Linked DNA regions of Homo sapiens: all the other regions are linked to region 1. The links come from fine-mapping of genetic effects on gene expression. A gene starts in region 1. Each other region holds a variant in brackets. All regions are shown on one strand. Distances are from middle to middle.

Region 1 (5,107 bases):
CAGATGTACATAATAGGCAAAACTATTGTCTATAGAGAATAATAAAGTGGCTAGGCAAAGGGTTTGCTATCTGACACTGAAAACGGTCAGGAGTGGGCTTATTCTGAACTGTAGTATTTTCATCCCTGGCTCTGTACTGAGAGTCAAATGCCAGTCTTCGCAATGCCATCTGAGAACAAAAATTCACTTGTTCCAGGAAGTCGCTATAGATATTGTGTTATATTAAAATATGTTCTGCTTTCACCATTCTGTTAATTTAACAGATTTATGAGGAATTTTCACTCATGCTAATGGAAAAAGTATATATTTAAAAAAAAACACAGTTCAACAAGTAATTAGACACAAGTCAGCTAACTGAATTACCCACAATAACATGACACAGAATCAGTGGAGAAATCCCTTACAGATGGTTTCACTGTTCAACAGCTACAGAAGAAATTACAAACCAGCCTACTTCTAATTTTTCACTTGGGCTTTGAAGCTAAACAATAATCCTCACTTCAATTCTGGCCTTAAAAGTGATCAAGAAACTATTAATGCTTGCTCATCTCTGTGGTACAAAAATGTTACATGTTTTTATTCTTATTAGGTATGTTATTGGACAAATGGAGGCAGTATAGCATAATGGCTAAGAAAGCAAGCTCTGAATCAGATTTCCTGGGTCCACAGCTAGCTGTATGAAAATGGGCAAATTATTTAATGTGTTCGTGTATCAATTTCCTCATCTTTGAGATAAGGGGAAAATACTATCAACTCCAGATTGTGGTTGTAAGGATTTTGTAAAATAAATGTGAGGCATACCTGGCATACAATAGGCATGAGGTGTATGCTATCATTATTATTTGTAACTATTACAACATTTTCTAAGAGAAAAAGAACCATTCTAGGAAAACAGAAGACTTGGATACTAGACCTTAGAGAAAGACAATTAAGAAGGCATACTCTTGGGCTCGGGTTCTTCACCTGTGAAATAACGGGGCCTTACTAGATGATTTCTCAAATTTCGAAAAAGTGTAATTAATGGAATAAATGAGTTGTTACTGCTTGTGACCACGGACCACAGCTACAACGATGGGAACGCTACAGTAAAAACATGAACAAAACAGAAGAAAAAAGGAGGACACAAAGGCTTGAGATCAGGTTCCTAAAACAGGGTGTAGGTCTAAAACTGTCATCTGAAAAAGATGATGAGTTTAAAAAAAAAAAAAAAGAAAGAAGGAAAAACTAGTATCGGAAGCAAAGCCCGAGGAAGAAAATTCTAGATTCTGTTTTTTAAAACGTGCGCCCAATTGTGAAACTAGACGCCAGGGAAGGGGGAAGGGATGGGTTGGCGCTCGAAGGGGCAATTCAGTTTGGGAACGGGAGCGCAAAAATTGCGGGAGACCTCGTCTGTCCCCTTTCCTGTTGGATCCCCAACTCTACTAAAGCAGGCAGCGAGTACAAGGTGCTGAATTTACACCTGATGAATTAATAAATGAACATACGTGTAAGGGGAAAAAGAGATAGCCAAGTCTGTAATATCCCTCGACAGGGAGGACGTAGCCCGAGGGATGATGGCTTGGGAAAAGAGGAAAGAGAACTGGGGGGCATCGGAAAAGCCCAGGGTCTGGGGGAGGCGGGAGAGCATCCAGGGCGGGTGGGAGGACCGGGACAGCACACGGGCCGCCCGGGGGGTCACCTGCGACGTCCGGCGGCGGCAAGCCAGGGTGGTAGTGCTGCCACAGCCCCTGCAGGAAGGCGGCGCTGCTATCCATGCAGCGGTGCTTGGAACTGGTGATGAGCCGCAGGCGGCCGTAGTTCTCACGGCTGAAAAGGGCCGGGAAGAGCGAGGCCAGACGCAGCGCCAGCTGTCGCATATCCTGCCGTCCCTTCTCTACTAGCTGCCCGTCCATCCAGTCCGCGTACCACAAAGGCCAGTCGGCCAGCGCTGCACCCAGGTCGCGGCTGCCGGTACTACTAGCCCCGCCATCCCTGGACCCGCGGGCCTGCAGCAACCCGTGCAGCTGCCTCAGCTTGCGGATCTGTTTGACCGTGGGGTAGCGGGTGCCGTGGCGAATGAGGGCGACCAGCTGCACCGGGGTGCAGGTCCCCTCCAGCAGCTCAGGGTCCCGCCACGGAGCCTCGGGGCCCGACAATAGCACGGGGTTGACATCCTCGTAGCGAGTCTTGGTGCCGAAATAGGGGCTGAGCGACGAGGCCACCGGGTCCCTCGGCTCTAGAAGAGAGCAGCGCGCAAGCGACGAGAGCAGCGCCGCAGCCAGGGCCGCGGCAGGCGCTACGGAGGTCCGGAGGAGGCAGCCGGGCGCGCGTAGCATCGTCGGGACGGTCAGTGGAGTGCGCCGAGCCAGCTGCAGATGCCCAGCTTCCGGCTCCGGAGGGCAGGGGGCGGGTCTGGAGGGCGCTTCCGGCCGGCGGCCCTCGGGATGCGCTTCGCTGTTCTCTAGGAGGTACCAACCTCTGGCGGTGGGTCTTGCGTCCCGGCGGAAAGCTCCGAGGAGTCCTGTAGACTTGTGGCTCGGGTGGAGCCGGCGGAAAACCCCGAGAAGCTTGAGACAGCCGTGGCTGAGGTGGAGCCGGCGTCGCTGCCCTGGAGCGTGGGCGAGTTTCCTCTTAGCCGGAGCTTCAGGGATTGACTCAAAGACTCCTCCGCTTTTTTAGTTGTTTTGGGTGTGAATACAGCCCGGACTAAACCTTAGTCGCCTAGACTAAACCTTAGCCTCCCAGGCTGCCAAAACAGCACAGCTTTTACAGATGACTCTTACATCACCATCCCTACTCTGTGATACTGTGTTTTTCAAAGTTTAGTGCCTGAACCATCAGCATGAAATCTGCCTGAGACGGTTGTTGAAAATTCACATCGCTGGGCCTTGCGGCAGGATGCCTCTTGAAGCCCAAGGTTTTTGTTTCGTTTTTTTCCATTTGAGTTTGAAAATAAACAGGATACAGTAAAGCAGAGAACTTGGAAAGGGGCTTACATTCTGCAGGAATTTAAGTCCTGAATCTTTGGTATAATCTTGACCTGGACTACCAGAGCTAACGCCGACATCAGTGAGACAGCACCCTAAAAGTTCTGTGCTTGTTGTTCCCGAAGGCTTAGCGAGTAGAGACATAGCAATCTAGAGAATTTGGGTGCATTGAGTCATGGCCCAACAGATTTACTCTATTATTAAGTATGAGCTAATCTGCTTTGCGAAGCAAACATGCTCTGTATTTACCACCACTCCAGATCCATACGTTCCTCCCATGTACTTACTTACATACTCAAATCAAAAGCTGGGTTTTTTAATAGGTTATTGCTCAGAATCTTTGACCCCAAAAATCATAAGTCTGAACAATACCTTGTTTTTTCCCACTTGAACTCCAGTTTATTTGCCAGCTGGGGAAATAATAAGTATTACAGAAGTCGTACGGTGATCCAGATTTAAGGAAATTGGGACCACGTTTTCATTAAGTTAGCTTTTGCTTCAAAGACACTATTACATTGCTCTTTATAAGCCCATCACCATCTTTACTCCTTTTCTCTTTAAGTGTCTCCTTGGTTTAGAGAGGTGTTCCTCTAAGTTTAGGCGTGCCTCTAAATGTTAACCAAGAAGAAACGGGGCCAGCCTATGAATGCTGAAAATTTGGAGACGTTCTGTGCAGGAAACCATCTTTAGGGCAACAGATGTTCTTTTCGATATGCTATTTTGTAGCATGTCAATGCCTGAATATTCATGGTCAGTGATATTTTTGTAGAACTTTGCTCAAATTAGCATTTAGTAAATATCCGCTCCTTCTTAAAATAGACATTCTAACCCGTATGCTCTATAGGCTGAGTCGCCTGATAATATTTCTAAGTGCATTCAGCGAGCATTTGTTCCAGGTTCATCTCACTGTATTTTGCCTAATACATATGCTTACTAATAACTTCTCACACCCAATCTTTTGAGTCCTAGGGGTTACCAAGTGTTCCCAAAGTCATTATTCACTTCTTCCTTATGAAGCAATCTTTAGAGACTCCACTTACAAAATGTATGGCACAGTACACATTTTTATACATGAAATTTGCCCCTAGTTTGATTTTATTTTCCTTATCTAATTCCTCATCAATTAATTTTATCCTGTTTTATACACTTAGGTATATCAGCTCCTAATTATTTTGATGTTATGCCAAGATAACAATGATAAAGTAAAAGTAAGCAATGCCTCCATGTTTTTGGCTAGGAAAAAGCCAAATATAAAGAAGACGAAGAGTGCTTAAGCTTTGGACCCAGACTCTAATTAGCTCTGCTGCTTATTAATTGAGTGACCCAAGTTCTCTGGGCCTTAGTTTTTTTTTTTTATCTGAAAATTGGTAATATTAGAACCTATATCATGGGATTATCATGACAGAGATGATGTATTTAAAATCCATATGATAGGCCGCTATAAATGATATTTTTATCATTACTAATGTTCAGTGTGATTATTCCTGTGCTAAGATGCCTAGCTTTCTAGCAATTACATGGATTACACTTACTCCCACTGAACATTAAAGTGAATGACTTTCACAGGCAACACATGCATCAAAGATCATTTCATAACTTTTCTAATAATAAAAATCCACTCATTTCACTTAAAATGGATATCTTGTTCTTAGAGCACTAAGCAGCCTTTGAAAAAATTTAAAAAGGTCACAGGCCGTGCTCCTCATTTCATGCCAGACCATGTCTGAATTATCTGGGCACTCTGTAAATTGGATGCCCTTTGACATAGGTGCCCACTTGGTCCAATCATGTAGTACAGAGAAGTTTGCATAGTGCGAAACATGGCTATTCCTTTGCAGAGATCATGGGAACATCACCTCCCCTCATAAGAAATTGTGGGTATGGGAGCAATATATTTGGCAAATCTAACACAATACAAGAGGCAGAAAGGAAAATTAATGGTTCAAGGTCCTTGCAGAGATGGGAGAGGACAGAACCAAAAACACAGGTAGAGAATTTGATTTGGGCCAGAAGGAGATGAGACCTTATCTTCTAAGAGAATGTTAGAAGGATGGGTGAACATGGGGATAAATTTGTAGATCTGGCAGGAGAGAGTTCATAGAATTCAAGTCTGATGGCCTCAGTTTCCACAGTAACATAGG
Region 2 (5,107 bases), 760 kb after region 1:
GAGCATCTCGTCCAGGGCATCTTTTTTTTTTTTAATAATAATAACTTAAAACAGAGCATGATTTTTAAAGCTAAAATATTAGATTGTAAGAGAAATTTTACAATTGCAGAAAGCTCCTAGAGGACATGTGTTTACTGTCCTTTGCTTGTAGGTCTGCTTTATATAAAGTTGAAGAAACGTTTATTGCCTTATGATAGTGAAATTATGCATAACTTAATTATCTCCTCAACCAGACTATGAGCTCTGTGAGGCAAGGATTGTGCCTCATTTGCCTCTGAATTCACAATAAAGTACTTAGTTACTTAGCATGAGGCCTTGCTCAAAGTAAAGGCTCAATGAATGTGGAACTAAACTCAACTCTGTCTTCCTCCCAGTGCTTCTGATGAATATAGTATTTCCACAAAGGAAAGGACTTCACATCAAGTGCCTAGTGGAGAGAGGTATTTTGGGGAGATGTATTTTACCTATCTAAACCTTGGCTTCCTTACCTGGTAGAGTTGTGAAGTTCAATGAGAAAAGATACATAAAGTGCCAAGCACTGTGCATAAGCATAGAAGGTGCATGCACACACACACGCAAACAATAAGAAAACTTGTTTCCTTTCCTCTAAAGTCACATTCTGGTTATTAACCTACAAACTATGACATTATCCTGGTCATTTAAATCATTCCAAGCAACTAAAAAAGGACCTGGTATCTATGGCTCAGGTCTGAGCCACTGCCTGGGGCTTCTGCAACACCCCATCTTTCCTCCTAAACTCGCAACCTCATATTACCATACCATTCAACAGCTTGCTTACTCTTTGGGTTACCTTCCCATTAAACCTGGGCTTATAGGGATAATTCAACTAGAAAGTGGAGAGAGGTAACCGCTTCTTAGGAGGAGGGAGCTGCAGAGCCATTTCCAGCCTTGCCTCACTCAGTAATCTGATTTCCCCTCCCAATTCCAGGGCATGTCTTGGCCCTGGTTCCAGGAACAGTCCTGGACAAATGTTGCCAATTCCTAACATAGAGCATGAACCAGGGAATCAGGATCCCAAAATGGCTGTGTCTTTTATTCTATTGGCCTGAGTCTAGAGTAGCTTTACCAAGAAACTAATGCAGCTTAAACTTCAAGGCTCCTCCCTCACTTCCAAAGACCCCCATGGGTGCTAAGAGTTGCTGGAATATTCTAGGTTGAGAGGGAAAGCTAGTTTGCAATCAGGGAACTTTTTTTTTTTTTTTTGAGATGACGTTTCACTCTTGTTGCCCATGCTGAACTGCAATGGTGCAATCTCACCTTACTGCAACCTCTGCCTCCTGGGTCCAAGCGATTCTCCTGCCTCAGCCTCCCAAGTAGCTGGGATTACAGGCATGCACCACCACACCTGGCTAATTTTTGTATTCTTAGTAGAGATGGGGTTTCACCATGTTGGCCAGGATGGTCTCGAACTCCTGACCTCAGGTGATCCACCCACCTCAGCCTCCCAAAGTGCTGGGATTACAGGTGTGAGCCACCACGCCCAGCCCAGGGAACACTGTTATGTAAGCTTTTCTGATAACTTGCCTAAGTAGGCTTTAGAAGAAAGTGACCTAGAGTTCTGGGACTCCACTCATTTGTTGTGATTTTGTCCTCATTCTAAATGAATACTCCATTTGGTGTTTGCAGCTACTGTAACCCCTTTTTTTCTTTTCTGTCTTTCTTTTTTCTCTTTTTTTTTTGAGACAGAGTCTCACTCTGTCGCTTAGGCTGGAGTGTAGTGGTGCAACCTCAGCTCACTGCAACCTCCGCCTCCCAGGTTCGGGCAATTCTCCTGCCTCAGCCTCCCGAGTAGCTGCAATTACAGGCGCGTGCCACCACGCCTGGCTAATTTTTGTATTTTTAGTAGAGACGGGGTTTCACCATGTTGGTCAGGCTGGTCTCGAACTCCTGACTTCATGATCCACCCACCTTGGCCTCCCAAAGTGCTGGGATTACAGGCGTGAGCCGCCGCGTCCTGCCAGCTTTTTTTTTTTTTTTTTTTTTAACAAGGTCTCACTCTGTCACCCAGGCTAGAGTGCAGTGGTGTGATCACAGCTCACTGCAGCTTCCATCTCCTGGGCTCAAGCGATCCTCCCACCCTGGCCTGCAGAATAGCTGGGACCACAGTCGCATGCTGCCACGCCCAGCTAATTTTATATTCTTTTTTTCTTTTCTTTTCCTTTTTTTTTTTTTTTTTTTT[TG/G]AGGTGGAGTCTCATTCTGTCACCCAGGTTGGACTGTAGTAGCACGATCTTGGCTCACTGCAACCTCCACCTCCCAGGTTCAAGCAGTTCTCCTATCTCAGCCTCCTGAGTAGCTGAGATTACAGGCACACACCACTACACTTAGCTAATTTTTGTATTTTTCATAGAGACAGGGTTTCACCATATTGGTCAGGCTGGTCTTGGGCTCCTGACCTCAGGTGATCCACCCACCTCAGCCTCCCAAATATATTCTTTTTCTTAAAGATGGCCCCACAAAACACTGGATTCCAGGCTGAGTCAGGCCCTTCTCCAATCTGTATCTACTTTTCTACAATGCTTCCCTCTCCTGCAGCTCACCAGAAAGTCACAAGTAGGATGAGAGGGGCTCCGCAGGGATGTGGAGGTGACCACATGCAAGATAGAATTGCCATCACCACTGGCATTCCTTCTACCCCAGGCACACATTGGATGCCTTGCAGTGATCCTTCTTCCACAAATGCTGGGATTCTCCTGCATTCCCAGTGCTTCTATTTGAAATAGTTTTCAGGATACCCTGAATTCAGGATAATACCCATCCTGAATTCAGCATTGGACATTGTATTAGTTGAGATTCTTTTGGTTGCAAGTGACAGCAACCGAATTTAAACAAGCAGAAGGAAAAAGGCGAGAACTATACTCTGAACCAGAGTTAGATAAAGGGAATAACTGATTTGCAAATGGAAAGGTATTCTGTAAGAATTTACTTAATAAAATATTTGGGGTTTTGAATAGAATTTGTTTGTGAAAAACAGCACTTTGTTCTCAGCTAAGCAATAACAATTATGGCATTCTTTGGTTATTTCAATTATGTTTTTTTTTTTTTTTTGAGATGGAGTTTTGCTCTTGTTGCCCAGGCTGGAGTGCAATGGTGCAATCTCAGCTCACCACAACCTCCGCCTCCCAGGTTCAAGTGATTCTCCTGCCTCAGCCTCCCAAGTAGCTGGGATTACAGGCATGCGCCACCACGCCCGGCTAATTTTGTATTTTAGTAGAGATGGGGTTTCACTATGTTGGCCAGGCTAATCTCGAACTCCCGACCTCAGGTGATCCACCCTCCTCGGCCTCCCAAAGGGCTGGGGTTACAGGCATGAGCCACCGAGCCCGACCCAAATGGTTATTTCTATGTAAACAGACAGTTTTTAAATAATGTGAAAATACAGGAGTGTTTTGGAAATACCGAGGTGGGAACACCGGCCCGCTGTGGCCAGGACGATGGCACATCATGAGAAGGTAGCACTTGCGGTTGAGAAGTGAGGCTGGAGAGACACAGCGGCCTGGCATATGGGACTTGTAAATGCAGGTTAGTTTGGGCTCTGTTGAGGGATAATGAGAAGACATTTATAAGTTGTGCAGGTCCATTAGATGGTCAGATTTATTTTTGGAGAGATCCTGAATGGGAACGGATTCGGGGGTGGATACGGAGCAAAATGGAGACAAGGAGATCAGTTAGGAAGCTGCTGAGATGATGCAGAGGAGAGATGTTTTTTAAAGGCAGGAGTCCTGAGGATGAGAGGAGAAAACAAATTCAAGACAGGTTCAGGAAGTACATGGGCAGCCTGTGGTGGTTATTTGTTGTCAGAGCAATATGGGAGAAGACACTAGGATGATCCCAGATATTTAGTTTCAATGACCGGGTGGTGCCTACAATTCACTGAAAGAAAGAATACAAGAGGAGAAGCAGGTTGGCTAGGAGGATGGAGAACTAAGTCAGTGGCAGCCCTGGAATTCCTCTATGGAAGAGATTCAGTCAGAAGGCATGTGGTATTTGTCTTGAAATTATAGTTACAATTATAAGCATTCTGCATTTATTTAGCATGCATGTTCAGAAATGATAGCATGGATGGCGGATTATTTGAAGGCCTTCTCAATAGAAGTTTAATCACCTTGTTTAAGCAGACAAGGATATATGAATAACATAAATGTTTTGCATTCAAAGGGAATTTACCAGCCAAATAATAAACTGAAGACCTCGTCTCGCATTATATTTTCTAAAGGTTTGCTTAGCTACTTGGTGGTCAAATATTTCAGTTTATTTCTGTTCTACTCCAAATGACTTCATTTCTAGAAAAGTTGCTATATTTCCTTTTATATCATTTGTTTTCAAATAAGTTTAGGGTAAAATCCTCTCATAGCATTTTTTTTTTCTTTTTAATAATGAAGACCCTTCTGAGGGTACTATGTTTAACAAAATCAAACTCATTCTTTTTCGAGGTAATCTGTTTCTAGGAATTACTGAAAGGTAAAAGGAAGTTTTCCATAACATGTATGATTTTTAGCACCTGAATCAGACCTTGAAAGAGCTGTGCAATTACAAATAGAAAACACATCTTATTGTTTTAATACTTCTTGAAGCTATAGCATGGATGACAGAATGTCACATCCTGAATTTGGCATTGGATGTTGTATTAGTTGAGATTCTTTTGGTTGCAAGTGACAGAAACCCAATTTAAACGAGGTCAAGAATAAAGGGAAGGCCAGGTGCGGTGGCTCATGCCTGTAATCCCAGCACTTTGGGAAGCTGAGGTGGGTGGATCACTTGAGGTCAGGAGTTCGAGATTAGCCTGGCCAACATGGTGAAACCCCATCTCTACTAAAAATACAAAAATAAGCCAGGTGTGGTGGTGCATGGCTGTAATCCCAGCTACTTGGGAGGCTGAGGCAGGAGTATTGCTTGAACCCAGGAGGTGGAGGTTGCATTGAGCCAAGATGGCGCCACTGTACTCCAGCCTGGGTGACAGAGTGAGACTCTGTCTCAAAAAAAAAAAAAAAAAAAAAGAATAAAGGGGAAATTGAGCAAAAGGAAAAGATAAGTGTGGAGCCTTGGGAATGACAAGATCCAGAAGCCATCACACTGGCAGAACACTCCG
Region 3 (5,107 bases), 130 kb before region 1:
TACGTCAACCTGTTGTTTAGCCATTTGAGGAACTGCCAGACTGTTTCCCAAAGTGACTGCACCGTTTTAGAATCTCATCAGTGATGTGTTAGGGTTCCAATTTATCCACATCCTCCCCCACACTTGTTACTGTCTGTCTTTTTTATTATAGTCATCCTAGTGAGTGTGAAGTGCTGTCTCATGGTTTTGCATTTCATTTCCCTGATGGCTAATGATATTGAACATTTTTCATGTGTTTATTGGCCAATTTGTGTAACTTCTTTGGATAATTTTCTATCCATTTCTCAGTTCTTATCTGCCTCAGTTTCTCCTCTCAGGGAGAAAGCTATCCCAACACAACACTTCATCACTGGCTTCATTCACCTTGTTATAATTTACAACCTCCAGCAAATTATTAAAATAGATTTATAAAGCACCTGAATCAGCCAGTGATTACTTGTGTTTAATAGAGATTACTTGATTTTAATAGAGAGCTCAAGACTTCAATAAAGACTCAGAGAGCTGAAGTCCATTGCAAATGGACTTGTCTTTGGTTAATAGACTTACTTTATCCAAAGGAACCATTTAACTTTCAAGGCATTATTCCCAGGTCTATAACTCAGGATAAGGTCTAGCCACAGAATATCAGAGGAAGGATTCAGAATAGAAAGATTAATGAAATAGAATGGTCACATAGTATGGCTCAGAGCCTTTCAATACCCAAAAAGGGTAACCAACTATCAGGGGTTGCCTGGGACTGTCCTGGTTTTAAAATCAAAAGTCCTGGAAAATATCTCAGTCCTGAGCAAGCCAGTCAGTCGGTCACTCCAGAGCCATATTCATTCTCCAACTTATGTAGGCAATAGAGTTACAACTGAGTGTTAAAAGAAAAACCTAAGACAAATTAAACAGAGTTTAACTGAGCAAAGAATGATTCACAAATCTGGCAACTCCTGAACCTGAATAGGTTCAGAGAGTCTCCGGAGCAGCCACATGGTTGAAAATTGATGGACAGAAAAAGGAAAGTGACAGACAGAAAATGAAAATGAGGTACAAAACTGGCTGGATCAGTTACAGCTTGGCAATTGCCTTATCTGAATGCGGTTTGAAGAGTTGGCCGCCTTTGATAGGCCAAAACTCAGTGATCAACACAAGAGTAGTTTACAGTCTGTTTACAAATCCAGTGACACGGTTTGGCTGTATTCCCACCCAAATCTCATCTTGAATTGTAGTTCCCATAATCCCCACATGTCATGGGAGGGAGCTGGTGGAAGGTAATTGAATCATGGAGGCATTCATGCTGTTCTCATGATAGTGAATAAGTCTCATGAAATCTGATGGTTTTATAAAGGGCAGCTCCCCTGCACACACTCTCTTGCCTGCCGCCATGTAAGATGTGCTTTTGCTCCTCCTTCACCTTCTGCCATGATTGTGAGGTCTCCCCAGCTGTGCAGGACTGTGAGTCCATTAAACCTCTTTTTCTTTATAAATTACCCAGTCTAATTTTTTTTTTTTTTTTGAGACGGAGTCTCACTCAAGTTGCCCAGGCTGGAGTGCAGTGGCGTGATCTCAGCTCACTGCAAGCTCTGCCTCCTGGGTTCACGCCATTCTCCTGCCTCAGCCTCCTGAGTAGCTGGGACTACAGGTGCCTGCCACCACACCTGGCTATTTTTGTTTTGTATTTTTAGTAGAGACGGGGTTTCACCATGTTAGCCAGGATGGTCTCGATCTCCTGACCTTGAGATCCACCCACCTCCACCTCCCAAAGTGCTGGGATTACATCAGTCATTTCTTCATAGCAGTATGAAAATGGACTAATACATCCAGTTAGGTTACAGTTTATTCAGTATGAAGATACCATAAGTTAGGTCAAACTTAAAATATGTAAGTAGGCGCTTTGGATTAAATTTAATTTAGCAATTCCCCAGTTTTGAGAGATTGACCAAAACTGTAGGCATTGATGTTACTCTACTACCATGCTAAATATCCTTATGCTGTCTTAAATCCCATTGAGAAATAGCAAAACAGTGGGTTTTGCAAGGTGGGAATAAAGGCATCTTGTTTTTGTTTTTTAATACACATGGAGTTTTGCCATTTGCCCAGGCTGGTCTTGAACTCCTGAGCTCAAGAGATCCACCCACCTTGGCCTCCCAAAGTGCTAAGATGACAGGTGTGAGCCACCATGCCCAGCCTATGTTTGTAAGGGTTACAGTAGAGGGGACCTTCTTGTGCTGCAATCTCCTGTTTACAGGAGAAAAACGAAACTTGGCCTGTTTTAGGACCTACCTGCTTCATTAAAATTTCAATTTGATTATGTCGCATTTAGCATGAGTGACTCCATTTTGGTTTGGTTTGGTCTGGTCTGTTGTGGCCTACTACCTGAGCTCAATCCAAAATAATGGTCTCCCATCATTTTGTTTAAAAATTCTCCCCTTTTGGTTAGGTTCTCATTTAGGTGAGAGTATAACCAAAACTTACAGCCTTAGCACCACTCTCAGTTATCATCATTTTGGGTTTCCACTCTCAGCATATCATTCTTAGGTTACGTTACCCCATGTTCATATTTCTTTTAGTTTTTATCATTCCAGTTGAAGAAAGACCATTTGA[C/T]ATTTTATGGATGGCTGCTTGCAAATATTTAAAACTTTTGAGGGAATACAACAAACCAGGGAGACTCTTATTACAACTATCAGGAGGGTAATACCAAAAGTTTGAAGTATGCTCCTTAGCCGGGGTTCCCATGAACCAAACCAACTAAAATCAAATAGACCAAAGAATGAGCTAGATAAAAAGTCTATTCATTCCAACCAAGCAGCCTGTTCATTAATTCCCTACAGTCAAGTCTCTATAACGTCCAGTGTATTTCCCCATGGGCAACTAGATGTATCAGCAACTGCACAGATACTTCTGTTTAGCCAGTAGATGATCTAGAGCAATTCTATTAATTAGCACAACATACACAAGAGAGTTTAAAGTCTGTTGTGTAACCATAGCCTTTGCAGTAGAATCTGCTGTACAGATCTACAGACTATTATGAGGTATACATTTCTTTCTTTTTTTTTTTTTTTGAGACGAAGTCTTGCTCTGTCGCCCAGGCTGGAGTGCAGTGGCGCAATCTCAGACCACTGCAACCTCTGCCTCCCAGGTTCAAGCGATTCTCCTGCCTCAGCCTTCTATAGGCACACGCCACCACGCCCAGCTAATTTTTTTTGTCTTTTTAGTAGAGACGGGGTTTCATCATGTTGCCCAGGCTGGTCTCAAACTCCTGACCTCAAGTGATCTGCCAGCCTCGGCCTCCCAAAGTGCTGGCATTACAAGCGTGAGCCACCGCGCCCAGCCGAGGGATACATTTCTAATCATTGCCTCATTTACTTTAAACCATGGAAAAACAGACCTAATAAATGATGCCCATCCAAAAGAATGAAGGCCTCTGGCAATGTTCTCTTTAACCTATGATGTAGGTTAAGAGGTGTGGACAAATGTTCTGGTTTTGATAGATAATGAAGCAACAAAGTTACCATTAAAATTTCTCACTTACATTGGCCCTTCCTCTTCCGTCTGTCAAGGCAGAAGATTGTTTATTGATAAGGCTGGCTGTGACATCCTCCAAAAATAAATGTATACCTCATGAGTGCACACAAGAGGCCCCTTTTTCAGTTCTATTGTTCACAGAGACATAGGCAAGGAAAAAATTTAGAGATGAGAATCTCATGATAGCAGAGAAGCCTTAAAACATGCTCTTGGGAAAAAGCTGTGTATGTCAAAGATGCTGTCTGTTTCTGGGGAGAAACTTCCCTGGTTAGCTTTATCTTAGGTACCCAATGGCTATATAGTTCCAAGAGTCTGGAGGGGAGCTTCTGAGTTGTGAACTCAAGGTTCAAGATCCTCAAGTTTTGCCGCAGTGCGGGTGGCAAAGGTAGTTTTTCTTTGATGTTGTTCTTAGAAGACCCAGTCTCCAGGTTCTATTATAGATTGTGAAGGGTTTGATCGTCCTTAGTCAGTGGACCATGAAAAACCTCTTCACCTGGTGAAAATACACTTTGGCACAATGCATTAAAAGTCTTGCCGCATTTAGTCATATCAGAGTTTAGTGATAAAAGATAATGAGCTTCTATTATTAAGTGCATAAGCCTTCCAGTGATTATTGCATAAGGGGTCAACTTATGTTTTCCGCTTTAAATGGATCTGACTGTCATCATTCTGCAATACCTCTGACCAAGGCAATTCAATATTCAGTTAGTTTTATTTATTGCTATTGTATCTGTAATACCATATTTAACTATTACAACTTGTTCAGTGAAACAAGTACCTCTATCACTAGAGATTTCTCCAGAAATGTCCCATTAGAGAAAAACAATTTCTAATAACCTTTTAGCTGCTGTAATAACATCAATCTTCTTGCATGGGAAACCTTCTATACAACCAGAAAACATGCATTGAAAATAACAATTGCATGAAATCCCTCTATAAATGTTTAAACAGGCCATCAGGTATCAGAAATGTACCTGAAGTTTTGATCATCTTTGCAGGATTTTGGGTTTGACAAAGCAAACATTGGTCATAAATTATTTCAGCAGTTTAGAATAGTCAGTGTGTGTGTGTGTGTGTGTGTGTGTGTGTTTAATTTATATTTTTATTTCTTCCATTATAAGTCATGGAATGCAAAGCTTTTAATATTGGAAGCTTTAAGGACCAAGAAGGTCTAGTTTGCCATCCAGGCTCTCCATAAGTCCATGCTTAACATTGAACTTATACCCTCTTGAATATCAATTTCGTTTCTTCAATTTAGGAGCATAGCACTGTTTATTAGATGAGTTATCATTTGACTTGGAGCATGAAATTCATTCAAATTGCATATTTAAACAATTTCAATACTGACTGATTTAGCTTGAAAATCTGGCAAAGTATTTTCTTGGTATCCAATTAATTTTTATCCTGCTTAGGTTAGCAATTTTATAAACCAGTCGGTTTCTTCATTAGAATTCTGGGAATTCTTACCAAGTCCAAATGTTATTATCCTAAAGCTATCAGAAGCCTTATTCAAGAGTGCTTGTCAGGGTTCTTTTTATCGTTTTCATGAAACTCCTTGAAGACACAATGCTCTAGGATTTTGCTTGCTTGTGAAGTTTCC
Region 4 (5,107 bases), 110 kb after region 1:
TTCAGTCTTCTTCCTATTCTGTCTCCTTCCCAGCACACTGACACTGGAAGCACACTATGTCATCACATGAGCAATTCACAGGTGCCATGAAATACCTCACAAATGTACAGTACTTTAACTGTTGACCCCATGTATTAGGTAAGAAAGATATTATTATTTACATTTATCTATTGGAACTTGGGGGCACAGAGTGTTTAAATTACCTGCCCAAGGGCACACAAGTCACTCACCTCTTGTGTTTCAATTATACAATGGCTTAGTGAGTCTTTCTTTCAGACGATTGTTGTGAGGAGTGAATGGAATTAAATCAAGTCTATGTGGAAAGGGCCTGGAGCATGAGTTCTCAATGCAGGGTGACTACTGTCAGCACCAACTAGTTATGATAATGACCATGATGATGACGGGGAGATAATAACACCTTGAAGTAATAATAATGAAGTTAGAATGATACCCCCAAATGTATGAAAATTACGTCTATAAAATGAGTTAGTTTATAAATCGTGAGAAAATGGGCATCCTCAGGTATTGCAGGTAGAAACACACAATGGAATAACTCTTGTCAGCAAGCTAATCCATTTCCAGGAATTATTATTTTTTTTTTTTTGAGACAGTCTTGCTCTGTCACCCAGGTTGGAGTGCAATGGTATGATCTTGGTTCACTGCAACCTCCGCCTCCCAGGTTCAAGTGATTCCCCTGCCTCGGCCCCCCATTAGCTGGGACTACAGGCGCACACCACCATGCCCAGCTAATTTTTGTATTTTTAGTAGAGACGGGGTTTCACCATGTTGACCAGGATGGTCTTGATCTCTTGACCTCGTGTTCTGCCAGCCTCGGCCTCCCAAAGTGCTGGAATTACAGGCATGATCTACCACCCCAAGTCCAGAATTTCCTAACAAGTTCCCAAGAGATGAAGGTGCTACTGGTCAGTGACCCCCTGCTCAAAACCACTGCCCTAGGAGATGGGGGCTCTTCTATGCCCCATTTTTACAGGTAAGGCTGGTCATGGAAGTGGGAGATACAAAATAAAGGGTGGGGTCACGTTCCTTTCTAAAAACCTAAATGCATGTCAGGCAAGTAGGGCTTAGAAAAGAATTTACCCTCCTTCACCTCTGTCACCTCATCCCTCCTTCCAACCTCCATCACTTGTTTGGCAAACTGGACTCTGGGAGCCAGAAGGCACCAGAAAAAGTGGAATGTGAGCCTGCAGGCCATCAAGGTGAAGCCCTGAGGATCCCCCGGGGCCAGTCCCTCCACTTTGATGCGGATAAGCCTCAGCTAGTATCAAGTTGAAAGGAGAAAAAGACAGGTGAGTCACTGTTAAAGAAACAGGTTCACATATGTAGGTCTAGGAGCACTGCAAGTAGTTCTTACAGTGGGAGAGAGCAATTGTGCTCAACTCTGAATCCAGCACAAGGAAGTGGGAATTATAGTCAAGGAGGAGGATGGGGGTTAGCAGATAGGAAATGACTACGAGGGAACATCAAGGGTAAGGGAGGATTCTGGCTAAACTGACCTAACGAGATTCTCGCTGAGCACAGGCCAAGGTTATCTGACATCAGCTGCGGGATGGTGGGGGATGAGGACCCTGATCAGTATATGGTGGACGGGGATTCCTGCCAGCTAAACTGACTTAGCAGGGTAATTTGCTAAAACTGAATTTTACAAAAAGTGCACAGATGCGTTTATCAGAAGGTTCAGAAGCCTGACTAATGTATGGTCAAGCAAACAATTTCTGTCACCACACAGAATGCATGCTCCAGGGACCATACTGGGCCTCAGCATCTTCCTACCCCACCAGCTTCCAGGAGGGCATTTTGCCCTGGGCCTCCTGGGTGTTTCCTTGCCTGATCATTTCTAGGAGACAAGAGACTTGCACTTTATCACCTAGGATAAATTCAGTGTCAGATTTTTAAGCCTAAATCGGATGACAGTGCTTCAGTGACAATCTCAGTTATTTAAAAAGGGAGGTTCATTCATTCACCAGTTCTAAAGGCGCACATAAGACATTCTTTTTTTTTTTTTTTTACAAAAAAATTGAGACCAAGTTAAAAGAAAAAGAATGAGAAAAATCAAGCAACCCGAGTCCCTTATATAATCTCTTCAAAACCCCAAACCAGGGAAATCTTCTCAATATAAACTTGGGAATTTTGTTGATCACTGACTGCAGTCTGGTGGTTTATACTTATTTTCTTGTGTCCTGTTTCCTCCCTTCTCCCACCCCCAGCCCCTCAGCAGGTGCTGCCTTCCTGTCTTGGTCTCATTGTCCTCAAATCAGACCTGCAGGTATGGTCCCAAGTGCTTCTAACCTTCATCCTCATATCCACGGGATCCCCTGAGAACCCAGCTTCTGTTATTGAGAACTGTCCCACCTGCTGACTAAGGAGTCTGATCTTTATTCAGAATCATTGCTAAGACACCAGAAGAAATAACATGTAAGAGTCTAGTATAGAACTCACAGTTCTGATCTGAGGAACTAACAATTGCTTATTTGAATCACTGTATTTTCTATTTATATTCTTTTTTTTTTTTTTTTTTTTTTTGAGATGGAGTCTCGCTATGTCTCTCAGGCTGGAGCGCAGTGGTGCGATCTCGGTTCACTGCAACCTCTGCCTCCCAGGTTTGAGCC[G/A]TTGTCCCTGCCTCAGGCTCCTGAGTAGCTGGGATTACAGGCATCCACCACCATGCCTGGCTAATTTTTGTAATTTTTTTTTTTTTTTGAGACAGAGTCTCACTCTGTTGCCCAGGCTGGAGTGCAATGGTGCCAACTCACTCACTGCAACTTCTGCCTCCCTGGGTTCAAGCAATTCTCCTACCTCAGCCTCCTGAGTAGCTAGGATTACAGGCGCCAGCCACCACGCGTGGCTAATTTTTGTATTTTTAGTAGAGACGGGGTTTTGCCATGTTGGCCAAGCTGGTCTCAAACTCCTGACCTCAGGTGATCCACCCGCCTTGGCCTCCCAAAGTGCTGGGATTACTGGTGTGAGCCACCACGCCCGGCCTATATTCATATTTCTATTCACAATATCTCCTACACGGTGTTTTCCTGTTCTATGGGGAGAAATCAGGCAGATAGCAGAAGACACAGGTCAGATCTCAGTAAGAGTTTCTATGGCCTCCAAACAAGCATTTATTGATTATAGATGTAGGGGTGAATATTACGAATATGGGGAGATGTCCCACAAGGTTAGCTCCTATGCTACCTAATGCACCGGGCAGCTTGTCCATAACTTAGTTTAAATATATCTGTCAGGCTCCATGCCCATTTGCTGTAAAAGCAAGATTACTGAGGTAATCTTAGATTTTAAAATGGAAAACTGGGCCTCACAAAAGCAGTTGGGAAAATTACCTGGAGATTGTTTCTAAGGCAGTGCCCAACTGTACCAAGCAAAGGACAAGTACAAAGTCAGAGCTTCATTAACTTGATGATTGATTCATTCACTTACTTAATGCAAGACTTCAGGGGAAGAAGAGTCGCTGAGTGGAGGAGACTGGAAACAATGCATTATGAAACGCCCATGGTCTCTGGATACCCACCCAGCCAGTCCCCACCCTCCTAGGGTCTAGTCTCGACCATCTCATCATGTGTTTTGAGGGTGCGTTTTCCTACCAGTTGTTTTTTTGTCTGCTGTTTTTTTGTTTTTGAGACAGGGTCTCCTCTCGCCCAGGCTGGAGTGCAGTGGTGCGATCTCGGCTCACTATAGCCTCAACCTTCCGGGCTGGGCGATGCTGGTGCCTCAGCCTCCCGACTAGCTGGGACCCCAGGCGCGGGCCACCACACGCGGCTAATTTTTGTATTTTCAGTAGAGAAGGGGTTTCGCCAGGGTGCCCACGCTGTTCTCGAATTACTGGGCTCAAGTGATCTGCCTGCCTCAGCCTCCCAAAGTGCTGGGATTACAGGCATGAGCCACCAGCAACACGCCCAGATTCTTCTACACCCTTAATTGGGAGATAAGGCTTCTGCTTGCAGGCTGTGCGTTCTTCCAACCGGCCGCACCTTTGCTGTGGACTAAACAGGAACCACTGGATTAGAGTCCTCTGGCTCTCTGCCCTGCAGGAGATTTTAATCAAACATTCTAGGCCTAAGGGAAAAGCAGGGTTAGGCTGAAAATGCACACAGGGCTCCCGTAAATTTCTTTTCATAAACCACCTGCCCAGGGCATTAAATAGGGTACTTAGTTGATCCGAACCCTCCAGGGAGGCCTCCGACCCTTCTCTTCGTAGCCCCCAGCTCCCCTCCCCCGGTTCCACTGAGGCAAGGGGACTGAGCTGCTCCACATGCCAGGAGTCAGCACGCCGGAAGGCCCCGCCCAGCGGCTGGCGCAGCCAATCGCAGAGCGGGCAAGCGGTGGGGGCGGGCCTGCCTGGGCGGCAAGGGGGCAGGGGGGTCTAGGGGCTTTAGAGGTCAGTTAGCTGCTTTCGGGCGGCCTTAGGCGACAGGAGACTCCTGGACCCAGCACCTGCCCACTGTGCCTGTCCACCTGTGGCTACAGCAGCTGAGACCCCAGTGGGCTAAGATTGGACAGGGGCCACCAGGGACCCAGCAAGTCCTTCAGCTCTGTGAGTGAGGGATTTTCGGGAGTGCCAGGCCGCAGTATTCCCAGGGCTGGTGGGGTGGGACAGGGAGGCTCGACCCCGGCAAGTCAGGCAGAGGCGCCCCTTGCTCCCTGCAACATCGCCCACGTCCTGGGGCCACAGTGAGCATGAGCGGAGGGCGGGAGCAAGAGCCAGGGGACCTGGCCTGGGTCCCCAGCCCAAAGCCTGGGAAGCTGCCTACGCCTGTGTGGGCGCGGACACTGGGGACTCTGGCGTCCGGTGGTTCGGCCACCTGATTCAGTTTATGCTCTGCGAGGGGAGTTGGAGAGTTGGCAGGACTGGCCCACCTGCAGGACTGCAGGACCGCGGGAACGGCGGTAGATAGGTGCTCCCCTTCCCAGTTTGTCCTGGGAAGACATTCAAGAACTGTTTCATTACAAGGGGCATTTGGAAAACATACTTCACCTTCTGCTGTGTATTAGCCAAGAACAAGGTGTGACGTGACTTCCCAATTATTGGGGATCCCTTTGTCCCTTCTTGAAATTAGATGTCTTCATTCTTGAGGTTTTGCCTGGA
Region 5 (5,107 bases), 95 kb after region 1:
ATCTGACAGAAATAATTTTAATTTCACCATCAATTGCTAGGATATTAATTTAGACTACAAATAGCTGCATATAAACATAAATGAAAAAATATTTTTCCACTCGTTGTTGAAACAGTGGGAGTCCTGAATGATTTGATAGCTGTACAATTAATCAAATAATAGACTACTGGATTAAATCTGAGTGAACTAAAAATATCTGTGCATAGCTGTAAACAAAATTAAATTAATATCCTCAGTACCTCTTATGCCTTTAATGCTATCAGGATCAGTAGATGTGATTTTAAATGACCATTCATATAAATAGGAATACACGTAAAATTTAAAAATACTAAGTGAATTTATACCTAATTGTACTACATTATTAAGTGTGATTTTCTGAGTGTTACTCCTAACCAGTAGCAAATATGTTATATATATGAGATATATGATATGTGTATATATGATATATGATATATATGTTATGATATATATATGATATGTGATATATATGTTACTGGGTAGGAGGTACAGTAGCAAGTTTTCTTTCTTAAAAGAATGGTATACTCTGGGTCTAAGAATGACAAACAGATGATGTGGTGGGCACTTACCAGAGTATTTTATTTATACTGATCTGTACCCCTAGAATATTCTAAAATGAGGATGTATGAGATATATAATACTTTTTATTCTATTTTTCTGAGTTTTCCCTCCCAGTTAGGTTTTCGGAATACAAACATGGAGCAGTTACATGACATAAGGGCAAATAGTATAAGAATTATTACACTTTATTCATTTGTATCTTGTATACTTCCTCTATTGGGTAAATGGATAGATGCAATGAACTGCTAAATAATACTTGTTGAATCCAACCTGAATGAAAACAAAATCTTATGCCTATCGAAAAGCATACAATGTTTGTAGTAGGGAGAAAGGAATCTGATAGATGTCTGATATTTAAATGTAAAAATGTTGGCCGGGCACTGTGGCTCACGCCTGTAATCCCAGCACTATTGGAGTCCGAGGCACAGGCAGATCATCTGAGGTCAGGAGTTCAAAACCAGCCTGGCCAATTTGGTGAAACCCCGTCTCTAATAAAATACAAAAATTGGCCAGGCGTGGTGTTGCCTGCCTGTAGTCCCAGCTACTTGGGAGGCTGGAGCAGGAGAATCACTTGAACCCAGGAAGTGGAGGTTGTAGTGAGCTGAGACTGTGCCACTGTGCTTCAGCCTAGGTGACAGAGCAAGACTCCGTCTCAAAAAAAAAAAAAAGTAAGAACATTATATGCTAACGTGAATGAAATATAAACAATTTTTAATTTTATATTATATACAATGGCAGATCATAGCTGCACCTGTAAGAGAAGATCAAATTAAAATCGGTTATCTGTTTGTTTATTCTCTTATCAGTGCCTGGCTTTCTAGAAAAATTTAGCGATTTTCATGGAATTCTCTGATAAACATTATGAACTCATTGCTTTCTATAATATGTTGGTAATATTGGCCATATATAATAATTTAGAACCTCTTATTCTCCTTTATTTTTCTCAGAGCAGTCATTGCCATTTGACATGTTATATTTTATTTTTGTTAGTTTCCTATTTTACCATACAGCTAATTAAAATGAACTTTTCGTTAATTCAATTACTGTTCTTTTCACTGTTATAGCCCAAGTATCTAAAACAGTGTCTAGCACTAAGTAGTCACCAGGTAAGTCTTTGCTGAGTGAATAAATCTTAGGAGGAAAGGAGAGAGAAAATCTAGATCCTTTATAGTATCCATGGTTTTCTACAAACAGCTAGAATGTAATATTTTATTATTTTGCACCATGTAAGTTAGAATCATTGTGGAACATCACATTTATGCAATTCTTATTAGACTATATCTAGATCTCTTTTAAAATAAGCAAGCAAGCAAACAAACAAACAGCAATGAAGATACGCTGAAGAAGTTTTGGGAGGAGGACCTACATCTTTACAGTTTCACCCCCAACTTACCCATACCCTCCTTCAATGAATTCCTAGGGCTTCTTAGAAAATAGTGGATGCAATTCAGGAAGTGTTTGTTTTAAAACACCAAGAATGATGACTGTCCAAATTCAGAATGTGTTCATGTATTCCATAGACAATGACTGAATATCTACTAGGTTCTGAAAAATGTACTAGTTGCTGCGGTGGATAAAATAATAATACACTGTAAGACAGTCAGGGGAAGAGGTTGGTTTGGTTTAGGATGCATGATAAGATATCTCATGAAGTATCTATATACTCAATTTTAGAAAATGGATCCCATTCTTAAAAACTGGATTCATTGATGGCATTATCAAATTGTTTCAATGTTAAATTTCACTATCTATAGTGTTGGAATATTAGTCCAGTAACAATATGAAACCAAAGATACATCACTATCCAGTAAGGCAGTTTATATTATTACCACATAGTACAATGTGTTAACAGAGATCAAAGATAAATGAACACTTCCAACATAAAATGTATAATAATTTACTTCAGGTAACATATTTTTAAATTATGGGTATAATTATGGGCATAATCATAATTACTACTT[A/G]GAAATGTATTATGTGTATCATTTAGCGTTTTATATATAACATTTTGAATTTTTAAAATATTTATGGGTCCTTGTTGTTAAGATGAAGTGGTGTTCCAGAAATAGTTGATTGTAGATTTGTTGCACGTAAAACAGAGAAATCCAGCATTTATAGGTAACACCACAGTTAAGAGGAAAGAAAACTAAGAAAATTACAGTAGAATGCTTTTGTGAGGAAAAAATGAAATGTCAAAGATAAAATTTTTATGGTTCTTTAATCACAATCATCAAATTGTAACAAATGGAACTTTAAAATTGAATTTGTCTCTTTGTGTGAATTACACCTGAGATTATACCTGCACACCAAGTGAAGAATCATATTTCATAATGCATTTCATTTGGCTTTTAACACAGTTATTCTGTTGAAGACATTTCTGTAAAGCTTTCCAGATACAGGAAAAGCAATTTAATAAACACTATGATCAAATAACTACTCAATTGTTCTTCATCTTTTTTAACTTTTAACACCTTGCAGATCATTCCTAGAATAAAGTGTGTTATCCCCTTTTCACAATGATTCATTAACCTGTATTAATTGTTCTTTACAAAGTTGTTTTTATATATCTTACTAACTACCAATGTGAGGAAAAGGTCTATGTTGCTTTCATTCAGTAGAAAACACATGCACTTTAATAATATTGTTTCTTAAAAAACACCTATTGGTTTGTTTTCTTTCAGTTTCTCATTTATCATCATTTGTTCATCTTCACTGAAAGCTGAACATATGCAGCCTAACAACAACTTGAATTAATTGAATATGTTTCGTATCTATTCTCCAAATTAAATTTTCAGTTTTGCTCACCTTTTCATGATTATATTAAGAAAATGTAGCCATAATTGCTTGTATAGGAAAAATTACTGAGAAAGACATTCAGATTAAATGTAGGAAATGCTCTAAGGATCTTTGAAAGGAAAGAAATGTCAGGTTCTATATTGTATTCAAGGAAGATAGGAGATGAAAGTGTCAGATATGCAAGGCAGATAAGAAAATCATTTTTAAAAATAAGTCATAGACATTCTTTTTCTGATAGTTATTGAAAAATCCTGTTCATCAAAAGATATCTTAAATCAATAAAGATTTCCTCAACCACCAGATAAAATTGTTCTCTGTGTGTGTATGTCTTATTGGAACTGTAATTATATTTACAATACTATAATTAGTCGTATTATTAACTCTCGTTACTCACTAGAACATTATTGGTAATAAGCAGTGACATATCTTAAAGATTTTTCTTGTGTCCCAGCGTCTGCCTAGTGATTAATATGTTAAGCTCCATAAATGTTTATTCAACGAGTAAATTAGTGACTAGGTACTAAGTTCTTATTCTTGTGTACAGTCACCTATAAAATCTTTCCACTCTTCTCTGGGCAATTGGGGAAGCTATGTATAGAAAATGGAAGAGTCTCTGTCAGCCTGGGTTACTAAGGGTGGACCTGAACTTTCTCTGAGTGAAAAAAAAATCTATTTTACTGAGCCACAGAGATTTGGATATTCATATTTTATAGCAGTATTAACTAATACAAGGTATTTTTAACCTTTAAAAGAAAAGAAGAAAAAGTAGAAGTGATACTAATTTCCCAGATGCCATCCAACTCCTCTTTCACCAATAGACAGCATTGAAAGGCGGGAATCAGTGCCTCCTCCTAGTGATAGTGCCTCAATTGAGCAGGGCTTATTCCGAGCTCAGTATGCAACATCCCGACAGGGCAAATCTAGGTATTGCTCTCAAGTCACTATCCAACATCCCGATGGGTTGAATGGCATGCCAAACACAGCAATAAGCAATATAAAAAAGCCAGGCCGCCCCGGGGTGGGGCCACGTGGCTTCAGACCAGAGAGCGGAGCTACCTTGGCCCAAGCGCTGCAGCTGCCTGAACCCCCGGGCTTCGCAGCCTTGCTTGTTTTCTCTGAACCGCAATAGGATGGTGTTCGCAGCGATTCAAAGGGTGGCACTGGGTTGGACGTTTTGGTTACGAGCCAGCCTATTCCCACATTGTACGTGAATGTTTAATGTGCTCTCAAAACATGGAAAATAAGTTTAGTGCACATAGCTAAATCACAAAACATCCAATTTCTCTGTTTCCTCAGGAAGTCATTACTGCGCCACCACATCACGTGACCTTAACATGAGCAATGTATTTCTCTGCCTTGACATTTAAATAAACTATATAAATTAAGATAAGTAGATTAGGAAATCGTTCAAATTATACCATAATCTGTACAAATATTGTGTCCCCTGCCAGGCAAGGGACAGGGTGCGGGCGACGGCCGCGTGGCCAAGGCCCCGCAGGAAAGCGCCCAGGTCTCCCTCACTCTCCAGGTGCCCTTTGCACCCAACAGTGCGTGTGAGGAACGAACTGCTGTTTGAGCCTCCCCTGAGATTGTGCGTAGCCTCCGTGTAAATGTAATAGCCTCCATGGCTTAATTGGCTATCAAGCGAATTTTCACAGATGAAAGCAATGTTAGGTTAGGGGACGACGGTGCAGCCACCCAGCCTTTACCAGCAGCGTGCTGCAGACGAAGGCAG

Which allele goes with the higher level. Alleles are on the strand shown, and positions count from the first base shown. SD is a standard deviation of normalised expression in the study named. Not every link is listed here.
With allele TG in place of G in region 2, the expression in skeletal muscle of the gene that starts at base 2,338 in region 1 is lower (large effect, 2.1 SD a copy in FUSION).
With allele C in place of T in region 3, the expression in esophagus mucosa of the gene that starts at base 2,338 in region 1 is lower (large effect, 1.1 SD a copy in GTEx).

Evidence for each region. PIP is the estimated chance that this variant, and not a neighbour inherited with it, causes the effect. A credible set is the group of variants that fine-mapping cannot tell apart.
Region 2: its variant is the best candidate, but not a certain one, in a credible set for the expression of MINPP1 in skeletal muscle (FUSION, PIP 0.90).
Region 3: its variant is the best candidate, but not a certain one, in a credible set for the expression of MINPP1 in esophagus mucosa (GTEx, PIP 0.55).
Region 4: its variant is the best candidate, but not a certain one, in a credible set for the expression of MINPP1 in blood mononuclear cells (TOPMed, PIP 0.71).
Region 5: its variant is the best candidate, but not a certain one, in a credible set for the expression of MINPP1 in whole blood (TOPMed, PIP 0.84).

What each region holds. Positions count from the first base shown.
Region 1 is chr10:87,502,124-87,507,230 of GRCh38, reverse strand. It overlaps MINPP1 (multiple inositol-polyphosphate phosphatase 1), which reads right to left and starts at 2,338. Exons shown (of 5, transcript NM_004897.5): 1 at 1,679-2,338. The coding sequence starts at 2,315. MIR4678 (microRNA 4678) reads right to left here and starts at 3,350; the gene lies at 3,277-3,350. It overlaps LOC112268064 (a long non-coding RNA gene), which reads left to right and starts at 2,397. Exons shown (of 2, transcript XR_002957094.2): 1 at 2,397-2,896. RefSeq lists enhancers at 2,059-2,118, 2,279-2,368.
Region 2 is chr10:86,738,291-86,743,397 of GRCh38, reverse strand. No RefSeq gene overlaps it. Among named protein-coding and RNA genes, the nearest start is that of BMPR1A, 16 kb to the left of the region's middle. The variant TG/G (reference allele first, on the strand shown) is at 2,201.
Region 3 is chr10:87,628,663-87,633,769 of GRCh38, reverse strand. No RefSeq gene overlaps it. Among named protein-coding and RNA genes, the nearest start is that of PAPSS2, 29 kb to the left of the region's middle. The variant C/T (reference allele first, on the strand shown) is at 2,587.
Region 4 is chr10:87,390,585-87,395,691 of GRCh38, reverse strand. No RefSeq gene overlaps it. Among named protein-coding and RNA genes, the nearest start is that of FAM245A, 15 kb to the left of the region's middle. RefSeq lists an enhancer at 4,220-5,107. The variant G/A (reference allele first, on the strand shown) is at 2,628.
Region 5 is chr10:87,407,528-87,412,634 of GRCh38, reverse strand. FAM245A (family with sequence similarity 245 member A) reads left to right here and starts at 4,935. Exons shown (of 3, transcript NR_046091.1): 1 at 4,935-5,107. The variant A/G (reference allele first, on the strand shown) is at 2,541.